Regions from separate parts of the Homo sapiens genome. Here region 1 is linked to region 2. The links come from fine-mapping of genetic effects on gene expression. A gene starts in region 2. The other region holds a variant in brackets. All regions are shown on one strand. Distances are from middle to middle.

Evidence for each region. PIP is the estimated chance that this variant, and not a neighbour inherited with it, causes the effect.
Region 1: its variant is fine-mapped to the expression of KMT5A in whole blood (INTERVAL, PIP 0.98).

Annotation. Positions count from the first base shown.
Region 1 is chr12:123,403,223-123,414,134 of GRCh38, reverse strand. It overlaps KMT5A (lysine methyltransferase 5A), which reads right to left. Exons shown (of 8, transcript NM_020382.7): 6 at 10,503-10,562; 7 at 9,061-9,251; 8 at 4,782-6,642. The coding sequence ends at 6,432. It also overlaps a transcript of RILPL2 not described here. Among named protein-coding and RNA genes, the nearest start is that of KMT5A, 25 kb to the right of the region's middle. The variant T/C (reference allele first, on the strand shown) is at 5,460.
Region 2 is chr12:123,379,035-123,389,946 of GRCh38, reverse strand. KMT5A (lysine methyltransferase 5A) reads right to left here and starts at 5,815. Exons shown (of 8, transcript NM_020382.7): 1 at 5,739-5,815; 2 at 393-514. The coding sequence starts at 5,748. RefSeq lists silencers at 284-393, 814-1,173, 5,525-5,694, 6,622-6,844 and enhancers at 5,185-5,344, 6,185-6,404, 5,927-6,657.

The DNA.
Region 1 (10,912 bases), 24 kb before region 2:
CGACCCAAGGGTTGAGGAGTGCAGGCACAGGGCACGGGACTGGCAGGCAGCTCCATCTGCAGCCCCGGTGCGGGATCCACTGGGTGAAGCCAGCTGGGCTCCTGAGTCTGCTGGGGACGTGGAGAACCTTTGTGTCTAGCTCAGGGATTGTAAATACACCAATCGGCACTCTGTATCTAGCTCAAGGTTTGTGAACACACCAATCAGCACCCTGTGTCTAGCTCAGGGTTTGTGAATGCACCAATCGACATTCTGTATCTAGCTACTCTGGTGGGGCCTTGGAGAACCTTTGTGTCCACACTCTGTATCTAGCTAATCTGGTGGGGACGTGGAGAACCTTTGTGTCTAGATCAGGGATTGTAAACGCACCAATCAGCGCCCTGTCAAAACAGACCACTTGGCTCTACCAATCAGCAGGATGTGGGTGGGGCCAGATAAGAGAATAAAAGCAGGCTGCCCCAGGCAGCAGTGGCAACCCGCTCGGGTTCCTTTCCGCATTGTGGAAGCTTTGTTCTTTTGTTCTTTGCAATAAATCTTACTACTGCTTACTCTTTGGGTCCACACTGCTTTTATGAGCTGTAATACTCACCCCGAAGGTCTGCAGCTTCACTCCTGAAGCTAGGGAGACCAGGAGCCCACCAGGAGGAACGAGCAACTCCAGACGCGCCGCCTTAAGAGCTGTAACACTCACCACGAAGGTCTGCAGCTTCACTCCTGAGCCAGCGAGATCACGAACCCACCAGAAGGAAGAAACTCCGAACACATCTGAACATCAGAAGGAACAAACTCTGGACACGCCACCTTTAAGAACTGTAACACTCACCGCGAGGGTCCGCGGCTTCATTCTTGAAGTCAGTGAGACCAAGAACCCACCAATTCCGGACACACTGGGATTACAGGCGTGAGCCACCGCACCCGGCTTTTTTTTGGGGGGTGGTGGGGACGGAGTCTTGCTCTATCGCCCAGGCTGGAGTGCAGTGGCACCATCTGGGTTCACTGCAATCTCTGCCTCCCAGATTCAAGCGATGCTCCTGCCTCAGCCTCCCGACTAGCTGGGACTATAGGTATATGCCACCACACTGGGTTAATTTTTGTATTTTTGTAGAGACGGGGTTTCACCATATTGGCCAGGCTGGTCTCGAACTCCTGACCTCATGATCCGCCCTCCTCGGCCTCCCAAAGTGCTGGGATTACAGGCGTGAGTCACCGTGCCCGGCCAGTTTATAGGTTTAGAAACTGAAACTCTGGCTGTGGAGCTAGGAAGCAGCTTGCCCAGGAGGCAAATGCAGGCCTGATTCCAAGGCCCGGGCGCGGAGCTGCCAAGCTTTATGGGTCCAGAGTCACTGGCAAGTCCTAATAATAGTAATAATTTACTGTATGCCTCGCCTGCATCATTCTAAGTACCTTTCCGATGCTGTCTCACATACTTTTGTGGGATGGGTATCACTATTGTCCTTGGGGTCCTCCCAAGGAGGTTAAGGCATAATGGGTGAAAAGTCTTGTCTAAGGTCCTCAGCTAGAAAGTGGTAGAAGCAGGACTTGAGCCCAGATACAAAGTCCACACACAGGCTTCAACCACTCTGCCTTCCAGGAAGAGCTGGTAGTGTTTAAGAGTCTAGTCCAGAACACTGTCTCAACAGCATCATTAGATCAGGGCTCCTAATCCCTAGAACCCTGTGTAACACTGCAACCCTGGCCAGGCATAGTGGTTCAAGCCTGTAATTCCAGCACTTTTGGAGGCCAAGGTGAGAGGATTGCTTGAGCCCAGGAGTTCGAGACCAGCCTAGGCAACATAGTAAGAACCTATCTTTACAAAAAACAAAAAATTAGCCAGGCATGGTGGTGAGCACCTGTAGTCCCAGCTCCTGGGGAGGCTGAGGCGGGAAGATTAATTGAGCCCGGGAGTTTGAGGCTGCAGTGAGCTATGATCACACCACTACACTCCAGCCTGGGTGACAGAGTGAGACCCTGTCTCCAAATATATAAATGCTCCCCTGCCTCCCTGTGGGGATAGATAGGGTAAGAGAACCCACTCAGAAAGAAAGGTTAAGATGGCCTGGGTGGCTGTGGTACCCCAGGAGACTAAAAAAAGTTACGGTGAGAAATGCTTGGACTGCAACTCTTGGTAAAATCTGATGCTGGCAGGTGGGCATTTTGGAAAATAAGTCCTTGGGGTGATTCTCCTAGAGATGGGCCTAGCTTGACAACAGGTAACAGAGCTGTGACGTCAGCTGAGCTCTGGCGGTTCTCACACTGCAGGATTCCAACTACAAACCTAGACCGGGGAGGAACAGGCTCAGAAGTAGGTTTTCGCCGGGTGCAGTGGCTCATGCTTGTAATCCTAGCACTTTGGGAGGCCGAGGTGGGTGGATCACAAGGTCAGGAGTTCGAGACCAGCCTGGCCAAGAAGGTGAAACCCTGTCTCTACTAAAAATACAAAAATTAGCTATTCAGGAGGCCAAGGCAGGGGAATTGCTTGAACCTGGATGGCAGAGGTTGCAGTGAGCTGAGTTCATGCCACTGCACTCCAGCCTGGGCGACAGAATGAGACTCCGTCTCAAAAAAAAAAAAAAAAAAAAAAAGGTTTTCAAGCCAAGTCTCAGAAGGCACAGGAGGTGGTTGCTGTAGCAATCATCTTTTATTTTATTTATTTGAGACAGAGTCTCGCTCTGTCGCCCAGGCCGGAGTGCAGTGGCAGGATCTCAGCTCCTGACCTCATAATCCGCCTGCCTCGCCCTCCCAAAGTGGTGGGATTACAGGGATTACCGTGCCTGGCCAGCAGTCATCTTTTACAATGAACAAATAGGGCTGGGCGCGGTGGCTCACATCTGTAATCCTAGCACTTTGGGAGATGGGCAGATCACGAGGTCAGGAGACCAGCCTGGCCAACATGGTGAAACCTCGTCTCTACTAAAAATACAAAAATTAGCTGGGTGTGGTGATGCACGCCTGTAATCCTAGCTACTCAGGAGGTTGAGGCAGGAGAATCGCTTGAACCCGGGAGGTGGAGGTTTCAGTGAGCTGAGATTGCACCACTGCACTCCAGCCTGGGCGACAGACAGACCAAGACTCCATCTCAAAAAAAAAATAAATAAATAAATAAAAATAAGTCAGGCACAGTGGCTCACGCATGCCTGTAATCACAGCCCTGTGGGAGGGTGAGGCATGAGGATCGCTTGAGGCCAGGGGTTTGAGACTAGCTTGGGCAACATAGTGAGACCCTATCTCTACAAAAAGTAAAATGAACAAATAAATATAGCAACTACATATCAGAACTTGGAGGCACTTATTAGCTATTAGTCCTGAGTACTTGTAAACACTGAATAGAAGCTAGCCAAATTTTTAATTCTAATAATAGCTAATACTGATTACTGAAGGCTATGTGCAAGGCACTGTTCCAAGTGTTGTTTTTTTTTTTTTTGTATTAACTCATTAAATCCTCACAATCACCCTGTACAAGTATTATTACTGTCTCCATGTTACAGGGAGGGAAACTGACGCACAAGGAGACTACGTACCTGCCCAAGTTACACAGCAGTGGATTGGAAGCAGAGGTTCTGTTCCAGCAGCCACATGTCCCCTCCAAGGTGAAGCTATAATACTGATGCCTGAATCTTTGGGGGAGGAGGCAAGTCAAGTGGGCAGAGATTATCCCTATTTGAGACAAGTTTCAGAGAGGGGAAGTGACTTGACCAATGTCACACGGCTGACAAACACTTAAAACTGATGCTGGAACTGGATCTTTTGCATCTAAGCCAAGGGCTCTACTCACTGTTCCAATCTACCACCAGTGCCCAAGCATGGAGGGGACAGGGATCTGGGCTGGTAATAGGGACTTCCAGCCCAAGACAGGTGCAGTGATGATTCAGAGCCTCCTGAGAATCATCAAGTCTAGTAAATTATAAGTCGCAATGACAATTACATCAGCTAAAGTTTATGATGCTTACTATGTGCCATTGTTCTAAGGCTCAAAATGCATTAACTTTTAAGCTGGGCGTGGTGGCTCATGCCTATAATCCCAGCATTTTGGGAGGCCGAGGCGGGTGGATCATTAAGGTCAGGAGTTTGAGACCAGCCTGGCCAACACGGTGAAACCCTGTCTCTACTGTGGCCGGGTGCAGTGGCTCACGCCTGTAATCCTAGCAGTTTGGGAGGCCAAGGCGGGCAGATCACTTGAGGTCAGGAGTTCGAAACCAGCCTGGTCAACATGGTGAAAGACCGTCTCTACTAAAAATACAAAAAAATTAGCTGGGTGTGGTGGCTGGCGCCTGTAATCCCAGCTACTTGGGAGGCTGAGGCAGAATTGCTTGAACCTGGGAGGTAGAGGTTGCAGTGAGCCCAGATCATGCCACTGCACTCCCACCTGGGCAACAGAGTGAAATTCCATCTCAAAAAAAAAAAAAAAAAAAAAAAAAAAAAAGGCCAGGTGTGGTGGTGCATGCCTGTAATCCCAGCTATTCAGGTAGCCAAGGTACGAGAATTGCTTGAACCAAGGAGGTGGAGGTTGGAGGTTGCAGTGAGCTGAGACTGCCCCACTGAACTCCAGCCTAGGTAACAGAGACTGTCTCAAAAAAAAAAAAAAAAGCATTAACTTTTAATCTTCACATACCCTATGGTCCCCAGTATACAGATGAGGAAACGAAAGAGCTCAGAGTTCTGGGAAACACGCTCAAAATCACGTCAGTAAGCTTTTCTGGTTCCCCAGGAGGATGCTTACCAAAGCTTAGACATGCTGGTGTGACACAGTCAAATTGTAAAAACAGAAAGACACACACGTGGCCTTGCCTGGCAATAAATATTTTAATTTGTTTCATTTTTATGATGACAAATAATTTTCAAGTTTATTTCCTTGTTTAAATACAAAGCTAAACCACAAACAGGTATAATCAAGACATTGTGTCTCACATTTACACTCCCATCGGATCCTCTTCCAATTTGCTGACCACTGACCAGGCTAGCGGGGGGTGGGAGGGAAGACTTTCTTAGGTAGCACCGTCGTGAGGCCCGAGGTGGGGTTGGGGGGGAATCAAAGACGAGGACAGCCTCTCATACCTGTCTCCATTCACATTTACCTGGGACCAGGGTGGGCAGGAGACACCAGGTCATGGCTCCTGAGCCCCGGCCCCCTGGACTGAAGGGACAGTGTGTGAGAATCAGTTCTGTGAAGGGCGGGAGGAAGCAGTCACCTATTCCTCCTGCCTTCACAGTTAAGGTGAAAACCTTAGCCCTATCCTTGATTCCTGGGGGCTGCCGGGCCCTGTGTGCTCCCCTGCACACCTGGGTGCCTTTCTGAGGCTGGCAGCAGCGGCCGGGGTCAGGGGTCCTGGGCTCCTAGGCTCACACCTCAGCTCACAGTTGCGTCCTTGCAGGAGGACACTGGGTGTCTGACAAACACAAGGCCTCGACAGCAGGTCTGGAACTTTCAACCCCAGCAGGATGAGGGGGAATGGGGGTGGATG[T/C]CAGGTAAGTAATTTCTGGTCCCACTACAAAACTTTATTTTTGATTAGAGTACCATTCTCAATCTCTTCTACAAAAAGCAAAAAAAAGCAAAAAAAAAAAAAAAAAAAAGCAGCCACTTCACTCACTTCAAGACCTATATACATGTAAAGTTGTTTTCTGTGGTTTTTTTTATTTTTAATTTTTTTAAATTTTTATTATTATTTTTTAAAATAAATTCAGTGTTCACATTTCTATAAAGAATTAACCCAGTTTCAGGAAACCCTGCCCCAGCAGGGCAGGTAAGCAACCCTCTCCCTGCCCACATCTAGTTTGATTTCACGCCCTGATGCTTCAAGGTGCCCAGAAAAGCGGCAGCTTGTGGAAGAGGAAATCTATGCCCGGCCCGTGCTTGGGGCCCGGGGCTCAGTAAGCTTTCGAGAAAGCAGAGGGGAAGACTAGCTTACTGCAAAAACCTTTTTAAAAAATATTCATACACTTCAGTGAGCGCCTGTTGAGACGTTAGGGGAACAAGAGCTTGGAAACATCCCGTCCAGGCCATTGGGAGGCAGCGTCTTCCTCACACCCCGTCCCTGGATGTCGGGGGTGCAGGGGGAAGGTCCCGGCTCTTCCACTGGAGAAAGGAGACTCACCTGGCTTCCTAGTTCATGTTTGACTATTTCCTCTAAAACCTGTGCTGAGTCTTTGACTGCATGCACGGGAAGCACAAACGTTCGGCTTGTATGCAAAAAAAGTACAAAAACAACTAGAATATAAAAGTTTTGGTAATATAAGGCCATCTGTTCAAGTCCACCTTGGAAACCTGTAACAGATATTTAAATACTACAGTGAAAAGGCATCTTAATATACTTTTTAAAAACATCTGAAGTAATCCGCTAAGATTAAGTGTGTAAAAAAAAAATTCAATTCCCTTTGAGGGCACTTTGTCCTTTGAAGAAGGGAAAGTGGGGCGGGGAGGGCACGGGGCCCACCGGTTAATGCTTCAGCCACGGGTGGGCTTCAATGGAAGCCTTGCTGCGGTCCCCATAGTCATACAGGAGCTCCTCCCCAGCCGCGATGTCTCGGGAGGCGATGAGGATGAGGTGAGGTACGCCGTCGATGTCGTGCAGTTTGGTTTGGCAGTTCCCACATTTGCTGTGATTGATCAGTCTTCCTAGGCGATTTGTCTCTCTAGTTGCATCCACGCTGGAGGGGAAGGAGGGCCAGAGAGGATTAAATGGATAAAGAGGCTTTTCAACCTGAAGAGAGTCACACTTGTGCTCAGCTCTGGTGGGATGCTGATTTAAAGCCATGTGTTTTGAAAAGATTCAATTCATAAAGCTATTTTCTTTTTCCTTTTTAGAGGGGGTCTCGCTCCGTAACCCAGGCTGGAGTGCAGTGGCACGATCACGGCTCACTGCAGCCTCCACCTCCCGGGCTCAAGTCATCCTCCTACCTCAGCCTCCCGAGTAGCTTTGACCACAGGTACATGCCACCACATCAGGCTAATTTTTAATTGTTTCTGTAGAGACAAGATCTCCCTATATTGCTCAGGCTGGTCTCCAACCCCTGGGCTCAAGTGATCCTCTGGCCTTGGCCTCCTGAGTTTTTGAGATTACAAGCACGAGCCACCAGGTCTGGCTCAATTTGCAAAGCTTTTTTTTTTTTTTTTTTTTTTTTGAGAGGGAGTCTCGTCGCTCTGTCGCCCAGGCTGGAGTGCAGTGGCACGATCTCAGCTCACTGCAACCTCTGCCTCCCGGGGTAAGGCAATTCTGCCTCAGCCTCCTGAGTCACTGGGATTAGAAGCGTGTGCCACCATGCCAGGCTAATTTTTTTGTATTTTTAGTAGAGATGGGGTTTTGCCATGTTGGTCTGGAGCTCCTGACCTTCATGATCCATCCACCTCGGCCACCCAAAGTGCTGGGATCACAGGCATGAGCTACCACGCCTGGCCCACAAAGCTATTTTTGAGAGCCTGCACAGGCCCTGGGTGGGGGGATGGGGTAGGACCCAAAGGGCTCTTTATGGAGGCACAGGAGGAAATGGTAGAGTTTCACAAAATAAATGGATTAAAAAAATCAACCCCGCCAGGCGCGGTGGCTCACGCCTGTAATCCCAGCACTTTCGGAGGCTGAGGCGGGTGGATTACCTGAGGTCAGGATTTCAAAACCAGCCTGGCCACCATGGTGAAACGCTGTCTGTGCTAAAAATACAAAATTAGCTGGGCGTGGTGGCGCATGCCTGTAATCCCAGTTACTTGGGAGGCTGAGGCAGGAGAATTGCTTAAACTTCGGAAGTGGAAGTTGCAGTGAGCCAAGATCGTGCCACTGCACTCCTGCCTGGACAACAAGAGTGAAACTCCATCTCAAAAAAATAAAATAAAATAAAAAATAAAAAATTCAACTCCACTGGTCCTAGCCAGGCAAGATCAATTAGTGATTTCCAGAGCTGCTCTGGCCAAATGCCCTGAAGGAGAGCCAGGTGAGCTGCTTAACAGGTTTTCATGTGACTAGCCCACTTCTCCCCTTGGATGAGATAACATCCAGGACAGCTCCAATTCCAAAGATTAAAAATGGGAAGCTGGGGCCACAGTGGCTCATGCCTGTAATCCCAGCACTTTGGGAGGCCAAGGTGGGCAGGTCACAAGGTTAGGAGATTGAGACCATCCTGGCTAACACAGTGAAACTCCATCTCTACTAAAAATACAAAAAATTAGCCAGGCATGGTGGCATGTGTGTGTAGTCCCAGCTACTCAGGAGGCTGAGGCAGGAGAATCGCTTGAACCTGGGAGGTGGAGGTTGCAGTAAGCCAAGATTGCACCACTGCACTCCAGCCTGGGTGACAGAACGAGACTCCGTCTCAAAAGAAAAAAAAAAAGGGAAGCTGGGGCCAGGCGCAGTGGCTCACATCTGTAATCCCAGAACTTTGGGAGGCTAAGGCAGGCAGACCATATGAGGTCAGACCAGCCTGGCCAACATAATGAAACCCTGTCTCTACTAAAAAAATATATAAGAATTAGCTGGGCGTGGTGACGCACACCTGTAATCCCAGTTACGTGGGAGGCTGAGACAGAATACCTTGAACCCGGGAGGTGGAGGTTGCAGTGAGCCAAGATTGTGCCACTGCACTCCAGCTTGGGCGACAGATCGAGATTCAAAAAAAAAAAAAAAAAAAAAAAAAAGGAAGCAGGCGATAATTGCATCACAGCTTTGAAAAAAGGCAACAACAGCCCGAGCGCAGTGGCTCACACCTGTAATCCTAGCACTTTGGAAGGCCAAGGCGGGTGGATCGTCTGAGGTCAGGAGTTCAAGACCAGCTTGGCCAATGTGGCAAAACTCCACCTCTACTAAAAATACAGAAAAAAAAAATTAGCTGGGCTACTCTGGAGGCTGAGGGAGGAGAATTCTTTGAGCCTGAGAGGAGGTTGCAATGAGCCGAGATCACACCACTGCACTCCAGCCTGGGCAACAGAGCAAGACTCCATCTCAAAAAATAAAAAAAAAAAAGTCAACAACAACAAAACCAAAAGACTGGCCACCAAACAGAATCAGGAGTTCCTGGCCCTTTGGCCTCTCCTCACTGCCCAGAGGACAGAAAAGCCACTCTAAGCAACAGTGGACTCACCAGTAGGTTTTGCTCAGATACTGAAAATAGTACATGTAGCAGCCCGTGGAAGGGTCCTGTGCGTACAGAGCCTCCCGTTTCTTGGCGTCGGTGATCTCGATGAGGTCCCCGTGGTATTCCACCACAAAGTCACCCCGGGAGAACTGCTTGGTGGCAATCACACCCCTGCCTTTGCCATCGATGAGGTCAATCTGTCAGGTGATAAGAGAGGGTGTTGGTTCATAATAGCAATGGATGCCACTGTGCACAGCAGGTCTCCGGGGAGCTGGGGCTTACCCCAGTCTTTAACAGCTGTACTGAGCCATGTCATAAAATTCACTCACTTTACATGTACAGGCTGATGGGTTTTATGAAGTGTATACAGCTGTGCAACCGTCACTACAGGCCAGCTCTAGAACGTTCCCTCACTCCACAAACGTGGTTCCTTGGTGCTCATCTGCAAAGCAGTTACATCAGAGCTCGTGAGAGATCTGCTAGGTGGAGACTGCCCCATTTTGTAGATGAGGAAACTGAGGCTTAAAGAGGCACAACCACGTGTCTGAGGCCACACAGCTAGACAGTGACACAGCTCAAATCCACACACCTGGTTTCTCTGTCTAGGGGCTATGCGCTATGCCTTCCTAGGCAAACAGCAGGCCCAGTGTTCTGGGTCTCTACCTCATTCCACGATTTCTCTCCTGTGTCTCCTCACTCTATTCTACATGGAGTTGAATGGGGTTGCTGGAGGGGCCCAGGACTTAAGCCGGAATCCCCCTAGGTGGTGGGTGGAAGTGGAAGCTTTCTGAACCCGGAGCCCTAGTCTAGGCCCATCTGAACCCCACTGTAGAGAGTACTTCTCCTCTCGCCCAAACTGAGTGTGGTTGAAATACAGTAAGAGAAAAGCACATTTCTTGGGCATTGTCATTATCTAGGAAAACAGTTTAAAAATGTATTAGTTTCTCCTTTTAAAAGTTTCCCTGGGCATCAGCTACATATTGTATAATCCGATTTATATGAAGTGCCCAGAAGAGCAACTCCACTGAGACAGAAAGCAGCTGAGTGGCTGCCAGGGGCTGGGCAGGGGAGAGGTGGGGATGGTGGGCAGTGGTAAGTAATGGGTAAGGGTTTCCATTTGGGAGGATGAAAAAATTCTGAAATTAGACAGGGATAATGGTTGCATTGCATTGTGAATGTACAAAAAGCCACTGAATTGTTTAACCACAATTTCTAAGAAAAGCTTCCCCTGGATAACATTTATATACAAAGCCCATTTATGTTTCCTTCATAAGACATTTCCTTAACAACTTTTGGTATTTGGCTCTTTGACAACCTAATAGAGTCTGCCTGGTCACCATGGCCATTAGAGGGTGAAAGCCACATGGTGGCCACTCTCAGCCACGGGACCAGGGAAGGTGAGCTCTTCCAGCTTTAGCTATGATGCAGCAAGCACAGCAGCCCCTTACCTTCATTCCTTCTTCCTTCCCACTTTCAATCAATTCATCTATTCTTTTCCTTTCTTCAGACTGGGCAGAGAGAAAGAAAAACAGCATCAGTATCTTCTCCTAGGCCCATCGTGCGTAGCTTGATGGTCTTGAGCCCTGATTGCCCAGGCCATGCCCACCGGGCCACAATCGGCCTCATTTGGCATCACTGGGGATGATGGGTCCCCAGTGATGGCAAAGCCCCCAAGTATCCCTCCTTTTCTCATCACCCATCTGTTGTGGAAGATCTGTCACCTGGGGTTCAACTGGATCAGGAGGGAAACAGTGGGGACCCAAGAACAGAATGGGGCTCGTAGATATGTTCTGTTGCCCATGCAGCACGTTAAAAAATGTCCAACTTGCCCACACCTGAAAATCAGGCCTCTGACTTC
Region 2 (10,912 bases):
GGGCCCCTCCTCTGAGTAAGTACAGACGGAGGAGGGCGTCCCCAGAAGCAACGCCGGGCCCTCGCCGCCTCGGGGACCATTCAACACCGAGGCGGTGAGACCCGTGACCTCTCCGAGGGGCCCGCGCAGGCCCCGCACAGCCTGGGACCGCGGCCACCTCCGGGGAAGTAGGGTCTTGGGCTGCGGAGACGCCACGAAGGCGCAGTCAAACTTTTCCGAGGTCAAACACCGCCAGGCTCATGGCGGAGCCGTGTGGGCGCCACTCCCAGCCAGGCGGCAGCAAAGGAAGCGGCCCGGCCGGGCGCCCCGGGCGGGTACCCGGGGTCGCCCATGTGCTCGCGGCCCCGGCCCGGCGGGCGCGCCGCAGGGGTGCGGGGAGGGTGCCTGCTTACCCCGTCGGTGCGGGGCCTCCCCGGGCCCCTCCGCTCCACCATCTCCGGGCCCGGGGCCGTCGCTGCCACCGCCGCCGCCGCCGCCGCCGCCTCCACCGCGCGGGGCTTGGACATCTTCCTGCCTGGAGAAGGGGACCCGGGGGAAGCGGGGGAGGGGGCGCTCAGGGCGCGGCGGGGCGGGGAGCGGGGCCGCCCGGGCCGGGCGCCGCGACGGCGCCTCCCGCCGCAGCCATATTTCGAGGCCCCGGCTCTGGTGAGCCGCCCGCGCAGCCGGGAGGGCCGGGCCGGAGCCCGCGTCGCCCTCCCGCCGCCCGGCCCGGCCAGGCCCCGCGCGCCGCCCGCCCCCCGCGCGGCCGGGCCCGACACACCCACCTGCAGCCCGGCCAGGCCCATGGCGGCGCGCCCCGCGCCCTCGCCGCCGCCACCAGCGCCGCCGCGGCGCCCCGGGGAAGGGCCGGCGGCGCCCCACGGCGCCCCCTTCCCCCATGGCCGGCGAGGCAGGGCCCGGCACCCGCGCACCGCGGCAGCCCCGGGCCGCCCGGGGCGAGGCACGAAGGGAAGGAGGCGCAGGCGGCGCGTCCTCCGCAGCCCTCCCGCCCGCTCGCAGCCGCCCACCGTCCGGCGCCCGGCCCGGGGAGGGGGCTGGTAGGGGCGGCGCCGCCAGGCCGCTCCGGAGGGCGGGCGGGCGGGCGCGGCGAATCCCGGCTCGGGCGCGCCCCCTCTCGCGCGGCCTCAGCCACTCGCGGAGGAAGGGGTGGGAAACACCGTCATGACAGCCCAGGCTCCCGCCCGCCCTCCCGCCAGCCCGCCCGGCTCCTTTTTCCGCTGGCTCTGCGGATATTTTGGGAACCCGGTCTGTGCCAGACGAAATCAGCAGCGGTGAACGCGCCAGGCCAGGCCCTCGGGTGTGCCCGGCGCTGTGCCCACCGAGAGTTTCACAGGCATTGAATCCTCCCCGCACGCCCACGGGGGCAGGTCCTGTCGGCATCCCAGCTTACAATGGTGACACTGTGACTCAAGGGATGTGCAGGGGTTTGTCCCGGGCCACAGAACTAGGAAGTGATGGGGCCAGGTGTCAAACCCAGAAGGGCTGTACTTGACCGGTAGGAAGCCCTGGGGAGACAGAGCCAGGGGTTATAATGATCGGTTTCCTGGGCGAGTCTCTTGCCGTTATCTCACTGAAACCTCACAGCAGCCCTGCAAAGGTAGACACCATTATTATCTCTTTTCAACAGATGGAGAAAGTGAGGAGCTTGGCCAAGTTCTCAGAACTAGATGGGTTTTCAGCCCCAGCCAACTGACCCCAGGGCCTTGCCCTCCCAGCCACTACCCTTCCTGGTTACAGATGAGGAAATGGAGTTTGGGAGAAGCAAATGGTCTTGCAGAAGGGTTTAACATGTCACCTTGTTCTCCTATCCCGCCGTGAGAAAATGCCCCCATAGGCAGACGAGGTTCCCGTCACTCTGGTGGCTGTTTCAGCATAGCTCACTGCCCTGCACCACTACTCTGTGGCCATTAAGGCTTGAGGGCCCACAGCCAGATTCACTGTATTTGTGCAAAGTCATAGATGCAAACAAGACACTTCAAGGCATCCAGCTCCTGCAGCCTGGCCCATGGCCTGGGAGTCAGGGGCTGGACTTATTTCCCTGCATCTGCCCAGAGGTGTTTTGTGACCATCGCCAAGTCACTTCCCCAGTCTGGGCCTCAGTGTCCTCATGGGTAAAAACCAAGAACCTTGAATTCCATAATCCACCAGAGCACCTTCCAACATCCACAGATAAGCAAATGGCTGTTTGTAGCCATCCTCCCACCTAGCCTCCCTCGACTCCCATTGGAACGGATAAGACTGAGTAGGATTAGGTGGTGACAGGTCACTGCTCAGACAATCCCTCCCAAATCAGCTCATGCTTTAGCATCCTTCAAGGCAGGGTCTCCAGCCCAACCACTAACTCCAGTGGGCTAGGTACTCTGCCTATGCCCTCTGCAGAGCCTACTACAGTTGAATATCCAAAAGATTACCCAGAGGGTGAAAGAGGATTCGAAAGTGACACTCTGATAACCAGGTTGAGCCATTTGAAAGCGTCTTCTATTTCTGCAAGGCAGAGAAGTTTTGCAGCTTAACTGCCATGAGAATCATGGTTTTGGAGCAGGAAGCACCCACATAGATCATCTTATCCATTTCACATTCTAGTATACCGAGCCACACCCCACGCCCCACTCATGGTCATAGCTTTCTCTGCATTTGAGCCCCCAATTGCAGGGGACACATTACAAGTCTAGCACCTATTCCTCTCAATTCTGCAGCTCCAGTACCTAGAAGATGTAAATACAGATCATTCAATGTAAGTTTCAAAACAGTCCTTTCTCCGCAAGTTTATACGTATATAACAAATACACCAGCTGGGCGCAGTGGCTCACACCTGTAATCCCAGCACCTTGGGAGGCAGAGGAGGGCAAATCACCTGAAATCAGGAGTTTGAGACCAGCCTGGCCAACATGGCGAAACCCCGTCTCTACTAAAAATACAAAAATTAGCTTGGCGTGGTTGCGCATGCCTGTAATCCCAGCTACTTGGGAGGCTGAGGCAGGAGAGTCACTTGAACCCAGGGGGGTGGAGTTTGCAGTGAGCCAAGATTGTGCCACTGCACTCTATCCTGGGTGACAGAGTGAGACTCTGTCTCCCAAAAAAAAAGAAAAGTCTGTATTTTTGGAGACCCCCCCACCAGGTGCTAAGGGATAATGAACTGAAGATGGCAAAATGAGGAGGGCAACCAACCAAGAGACCATTCAACAATGGCAGTAGAAATAGTGAAAGGTAGGTGGACTGACCCCTGAGACTAATATATTGGGGTTGTAAATATTTGCATGATTATAAAACTTCAAAATGAGTGAGGTGTTGCCTGGCATCTGACCAGTTTGTTTCTGTGACCCAGCAGGGCTCTCAAAGTGAATTGCAAGTTCAAAGCCCAATTTTCTAGAAGAAAAAGACTGTTCATTTGAAGTGCTGTAAATGATTTGGTATTTACAATTCTAAATATTGGCCAGGCGTGGTGGCTTTTGCCTGTAATCCCAGCACTCTGGGAGGCCGAGGTGGGCAGATAACCTGAGGTCAGGAGTTCAAGACTAGCCTGGCCAACATGGCGAAACCCCGTCTCTACTAAAAATACAAAAATTAGCTGGGTGTGGTGACAGGTGCCTGTAATCCCAGCTACTTGGGAAGCTGAGGCACAAGAATCACTTGAACACAGGAGAGGGAGGGTGAAGCGGGCTGAAATCACTCCACTGTACTCCAGCCTGGGTGACAGAGAGAGACTCTGTCTCAAAAAAAAAAAAAAAAAAAAAAATCTAAATCTAAATATCCAATTTAATAGCTTGCAAGGGCAGTAAAGCCTAAGAAACAGGTAACTACTAATTTGGGGGTCAAGTGAGACAGTGAGAATCAATAACTAATAATTACATAGGTGATTTGTAAGCTGCCATGGGAGGAGCTGACAAACATTATCTTCGCTTTGGGTAAGTAAGGGAGGTTGGGTGGCACAAGCAAAGACCCAGCCAAGCTAGAGTCTGGACAGCAAGTTTGGACTTCACGCTTCCTCTTCCAAAAAATGAGAATAACAATTTGTAAAGATCAATTGAGTTAATAAAGTGCCTGGCCCTCAGTGGTAATTATTATTATTTTGTTATTGTTCTTGTTTGTTTTTTTGAGATGGAGTCTTGCTCTGTTGCCCATGCTGGAGTGCGGTGACGTAATCTCGGCTCACTGCAAGCTCCACCTCCCAGGTTCAGGCAATTCTCCCTGCCTCAGCCTCCCAAGTAGCTGGGATTACAGGCATGCGCTGCCATGCCCGGCTAATTTTGTATTTTTAGTAGAGACGGGATTTCTCCATGTTGGTCAGACTGGTCTCGAACTCCCGACCTCAGGTGATCTGCCCGCCTTGGCCTCCCAAAGTGCTAGGATTACAGGTGTGAGCCACCATGCCTGGCCATAATTATTATTTAGTCATATTTTAAGTATTTCAATGATAGATGGTTAGTTTTCTTCATATATTAATTAATGCACTACTTTTAAAACAAGTAGTTTAAATGATTTTGCTGTGATGAGAAAAATGAACCCAGGAAGCATAGTTTTATTAAAATTTGTCAGATAAATTAGTCAGATAATGTTAAATATACTTTTAGATGCTTAACACTTTTCAAAGGAAAAATATTAGTATTAATTTTCTCCAAGAGTTGAGTGATGAAGCTCTTTAACCTGAAGTTTACTATGCCTCATTTTTTCATCAGGCTCTGGGTAAGTCTTATCCCAAAAGAACCTCTAGGGATGCTAGGAGAATAGATGATGCAACTGACTTCAGGGCCTGAAAACAAAGGGACCCAATAGATATTTACTGAATGAATCATTATTTTATTCATTATTATTGCTATAGGGAGCATACTGCACTAAAGCAAATTCCTACTAACACTTGAAGCCTTGAAATTTTGAGAAAAATATAATACCAAAACTTTTTTTTTTTTTTAATACTAATTCTACTCAACTTTCACGCTCAAGTTTTTGGCCCTTTGGCGTGAAGGAGACGCAGTGGCTGGAAATGACCAAGCGGTTGGAGATCTCTTTGCCGCATACCTGGGAGGCACTGTCCTGACAGCCAACTAAGTATGCAGAGGACTTCAGACAGGGCATCGCCTCCCAGGGCTGTACAAGCCCACCCAAGCCATCTACCGGGGGGCGAAGTCCTGACCAGATGCGGGGCGAACGACCGCGCCCGCGAGATGCCAGGAACCCGTTTTACCCCAAAGTGGGCCAGCGGGGCCCGGCCTTCGCTCCAGCGGCGCAGAGCTGACTCAGGACGTGGGGAGGGAGGAAAGGCGCCTGCTGCGGTGTCCACCCTGACGCGCACCCCAATATGCAGGTTATCGATCTGCGCCTTCGCCTCGGGATCACCTCCTTTCCCAAAGAGAGAGGGCCCCAAAGTGGGCGAAGCCTCACTCCTGCCCCCGCCCCACTTCTATCAATAACACCTATTCCCTGGAGGTGCCCTGCGCTTTAGTTTCCAAAGAGCTCTGACATATGGATCTGCTGCCGTGGAGAGGCAGGCCCGCAGGTGTTCACTTCATAGAAGGGAAACAGAAGCACGGCAGTGGGAAGGGTTTCTGGGGGCATCTGGAGCCGCAAGGGGGGGCCGGCGGGTTCCGCAGCAGCACCCCCTCTCCCCCCACGCGGGTCCCCAAGCTTGCCCCGAGCCACCCGAGGAGGACGCCTCCCCGCAGCCGCTGCCTCCACCCCGGCAACCCCTCCAGCACGACCCCCGACCCAGCCGCTCCGGTGCCGGCCACTTGGGCAAATACCTCTAGCCATGGCTCCACTCTGTCACCGCCTGGGATCTCCCGGGAAACCCAGCTTTCGAAAAAAGTTGCAACAACTCAGCCAACTGCTCCGCCGGGCTCCAGCTGCTCGCCCCGATTGGCGCCGCCTCCCGCCTCTCCGCAGGCTGCCCGTAGTGATAGGCCAACTCGGAGAAAGGCCCCGCCCTTCTCCCGCCTCTTCGGCGGCGGGGCGTGTCCAGCCGCCGCAATAACTGCAAACGCTTTCCCGACAGGTCCCGGCGGAGGAGGTGGGAGGGGTGTTTAAATTTGACCGTCGCCAGACGTTGAATGGCTGCGATGGAAGACACCCGAGCTGCCATTGGGAGGCCCCAGATTCCTCCCCCTCCCGCTGCTGAAGCTCCGCCTCCGGAGCGTGAGTAGCCCGGCTGGAGCCCTGGGCTCCGAGCCGACCGGATCTGGGACTTCCGGTTCTCTGTGGGCTTGACCGGAACCCGACCTTTGACCCCTCGATCTTCCCTTAAGAGCTGGGAAACCTGAGTCTCCCAGCAGTTTAGCAACTCCAGCACACCGACCTCTCCAGCAGTTTGATCCATTCATTCTCAGGTTTGAAAGGTTTTGGCCGGGCGCGGTGGCTCATGCCTGTAATCCCAGCACTTTGGGAGGCTGAGGCGGGCGGATCACCTGAGGTCCGTGGTTCGAGACCAGCCTGACCAATATAGAGAAACCCAGTCTCTACTAAAAATACAAAATTAGCCGGGCGTGGTATCGCATGCATGTAATCCCAGCTACTCGGGAGGCTGAGGCCGGAGAATAGCATGTAATCCCAGCTACTCGGGAGGCAGAGGTTACGGTGAGCCGAGATCGCGCCATTGCACTCCAGCCTGGGCAACAAGAGCGAAACACTGTCTCAAAAAAAAAAAAAAAAAAAAAGGTTTATTGAATATTCCAGTATTCAAAACCCGGCCGGGCGCGGTGGCTCACGCCTGTAATCTCAGCACTTTGGGAGGCCGAGGCGGGTGGATTACGAGGTCAGGAGATCGAGACCATCCTGGCTAACACGGTGAAACCCCGTCTCTACTAAAAATACAAAAAAAATGAGCCGGGCGTGGTGGCGGGCGCCTGTAGTCCCAGCTACCTGGGAGGCCGAGGCAGGACAATGGCGTGAACCCGGGAGACAGAGCTTGCAGTGAGCCGAGATCACGCCGCTGCACTCCAGCCTGGGCGACAGAACGAGACTCCGTCTCAAAAAAAGAAAAAAAAAAAAACCCACAGACACAACTCCTACCAACTAACTGGGTCAGTAGGGAAGGTCCTTCCAGGACCGCAAAGATCCTAATGCTTCACACCCACCCATTTTACAGATGGGGCAATAGAGGAAGCGGGTCACTTACGCGCTGCCCAAGGTCACCCAGCAATGTAATTGCAGGGCCTGGGTCAGTCTCTCCACTGTTCAAACACTAAATGGCTACCTTATCCCGAGGGAAGCAAGTATTCGCTGTTCCCCTCTGAGAGAGGGGGCTCAGTCAGTATGTTCCCAGAGAATCAGGTGTCCTGGAGTGTCTGCTTTGGACTCAGGGAAGGCGTCCAGTTACTACTGCTCTTCCCTGGGGCCCCTCCCAGGGGTGTGGGACGAGGTCACTAATCCATCCTGTCTCTTTGGTAATTGAAAAGGTTTTGGAGACCCAACCATTGCCCAAAGACTCTTCCAAAGCACCAGGAAAATAGGAAAGGAAAATAAAATGATATATGTGAAAGCACTGGGAAAGGTAGAAAAGGACACTTTTGTCACAAAGTCACTGTGTCACTTGGCACATCAGTTCAGCTCTCTGGCCTTCCATTTCCCTACCTGTCAAATGAAGGAGCTGGTGCCGTAATCTCCAACATGCCTTACAGCTTCCATAAATATGTGGAAGTGTGGCAGTGTGCAGTGGCTCTCACCTGTAATCCCAGCACTCTGGGAGGCCGAGGCAGGTGGATCACGAGGTCAGGAATTCAAGACCAGCCTGACCAACATGGTGAAAACCCCGTTTCTACTAAAAATACAAAAATTAGCCAGGCGTGGTGGTGCGTGCCTGTAATCTCACTACTCAGGAGGCTGAGGCGGAGAAGTGCTTGAACCCGGGAGGCAGAGGTTGCAGTGAGCCAAGATCGTCCCACTGCAATCCAGCCTGGGCACCAGAGCGAGACTCTGTCTCAAAACAAACAAACAAACAAACAAAAAATATATATAGAGAGAGAGGTGTTTGCTTTCTCCAAAATTGATTATTTCAACATTTATTGAGCTCTATGCCTGCCGCTGTTTTGGATCCCCCAAGGATCCGAAGGGAAAGTAGACACAGCTCCTTCCCTGCATTCTTTTAGGGAAGAAACAAGGCATTATTTAAAAGATAATTTTAAGGCTGGGTGTGGTGACTCACACCTGTAATCCCAGCACTTTGGGAGGCTGAGGTGGGCGGATCACCAGGTCAGAAGATCGAGACCATCCTGGCTAACACGGTGAAACCCCATCTCTACTAAAAATACAAAAAAAAAAAAATTAGCCGGGCGTGGTGGCAGGCACCTGGAGTCCCAGCTACTCGGGAGGCTGAGGCAGAGCTTGCAGTGAGCCGAGATCACGCCACTGCACTCCAGCCTAGGCGACAAAGAGAGACTCCATCTCAAAAAAAAAAAAAGAGAAAAAAGAAAAAAAAGATCATTTTGTTTATTTATTTTTATTTTTCTTGAGACGGAGTCTCTCTCTGTCTCCCTAGGCTGGAGTGCAGTGGTTTGATCTCGGCTCACTGCAACATCTGCCTCCTGGGCTCAAGCAATTCTCCTGCCTCAGCATTCTGAGTAGCTGGAATTATAGGCGCCCACTACCATGGCTGGCTAATTTTTGTATTTTTAGTAGAGATGGGGTTTCACCATGTTGGCCAGGCTGGATTCGAACTCCTAACCTCAATTGATATGACGGCCTCAGCCTCCCAAAGTGCTGGGATTACAGGCGTGACCCACTGCGCTCAGCCCAATTTTTGTATTTTTAATAGAGATAGTGTTTCTCCATGTTGGCCAGTCTGGTCTCAAACTCCTGGCATCATGTGATCCAGCTGCCTCAGCCTTCCAAAGTGCTAGGATTACAGGCATGAGCCCACCACCCCTAGCCTAAAAGATTATTTTTATTTTATTTATTTTTTAAGACAGGGTCGCATTCTGTCATCCAGGCTAGAGTGCAGGGGCACGTTCTCGACTCACTGCAACCTCCACCTCCTGGGCTCAAGCAATTCTCCTGCCTCAGCCTCCCAAGTAGTTGGGATTACAAGAGTGTGCCATCATGCCCACCTATTTTTTTTTTTTTGAGACGGAGTCTCGCTCTGTCACCCAGGCTGGAGTGCAATGGCGTGATCTCGGCTCACTGCAACCTCTGCCTCCTAGGTTCAAGCAATTCTCCTGCCTCAGCCTCCCGAGTAGCTGGGATTATAGGCATGCGCCAAAACACCCAGCTATTTCTTTTTTGTATTTTTAGTAGAGACGGGGTTCCACCATGCTCCCCAGGCTAGTCTTGAACTCCTGGCCTCAAGTGATCCACCCGCCTCAGCCTCCCAAAGCGCTTGCCTTACAGGCGTGAGCCACCGCGCCCGGGCATATTTTTGTATTTTTGGTAGAGAAGGGGTTTCACCACGTTGGCCAGGCTGGTCTTGAATTCCTGACCTCAAATGATCTACCTGCCTTGGCCTCCCGAAGTGTTGGGACTACAGGCGTGAGCCACACGCCCATCCAAAAGATTATTTAATTTAATTAATTTATTTATTTTATTTATTTATTTTTTGAGACAGAGTTTCACTCTTGTTGCCCAGGCTGGAGTGCAATGGCACAATCTCGGCTCACCGCAACCTCCACCTCCCAGGTTCAAGCGATTCTCCTGCCTCAACCTCCCGAGTAGCTGGGATTACAGGCATGCGCCACGATACCCAGCTAATTTTGTATTTTTAGTAGAGACAAGGGTTTCTCCATGTTGGTCAGGCTGGTCTCAAACTCCTGACCTCAGGTGATGATCAGTCCACCTCGGCCTCCCAAAGTGCTGGGATTACAGGGGTGAGCCACCGCACCCGGCCTATTTATTTTTTGAGACAGAGTCTTGCTCTATCGCCCAAGCTGGAGTGAAGTGGCAGGATCTTGGCTCACCACAACCTCCGCCTCCCGGGTTCAAGCGATTCTCCTGCCTCAGCCTCCCAGATAGCTGGGATTACAGGCACCCGCCACCACACCCAGCTAATTTTTGTATTTTTAGTAGAGGTGGGGTTTTGCCATGTTGGCCAGGCTGGTCTCAAACTCCTGACCTCAAGTGATCTGCCCACCTTGGCCTTCCAAATTGCTAGGACTACAGGCATGAGCCACTGCTCCCAGCCCAAAAGATCATTATAAATAGTGATTAATGCTATAAGGAAAAAAGGCAGGCCAGGCCTGGTGGCTTATGCTTGTAATCCCAGCACTTTGGGAGTCCGTGGCAGGTGTATCGCTTGATCTCATAAGTTTGAGATCAGCCTGGGTAATATCCACATTTCTACCCTGTTCTGTGATACAGAGCAGCAAACCATAATTCCCCGTTCTCAGTTAATGTTAGGTTCTTCCAATGAGAGCAGATAGAAGCAGTCTGGGAGGCAGGAGGAAGAGAGGGGACTTGTTCTTGCCTGTTTGCTTACTATTCCTAGCATGTTCCCCTCAGTAATAACACTGCCTCTGGCAGTAGTATTTGGTTCAGTCTCCAGGTTCTTTGTACACTCCCAGAGACAGCCTCCTTGTGCTCCCGCGGAGGCACCAACAGCAGACCCCTCCTCAGAGTTTTGAGTCCCAACTACACAGGGCTCTGGGAGGCCCAGCACCAATCTGGTTGTGCCTCTTTCTTTTTTTCTTTCTGTCTTTTTTTTTGAGACAGAGTCTCGCTCTGTCACCCCAGTGGCACAATCTCAGCTCACTGCAACCTCTGCCTTCTGGGTTCAAACGATTCTCCTGCCTCAGCCTCCCACATAGCTGGAATTGCCGGCATGCACCACCACATCAGGCTAATTTTTTGTATTTTTAGTAGAGACAGGGTTTTGCCATGTTGGCCAGGCTGGTCTCGAACTCCTGACCTCAAGTGATCCGCCCACCTCTGCCTCTGAAAGTGCTGGGATTACAGGCATGAATCACAGCGCCTGGCTATGTGCCTCTTTCTTAGA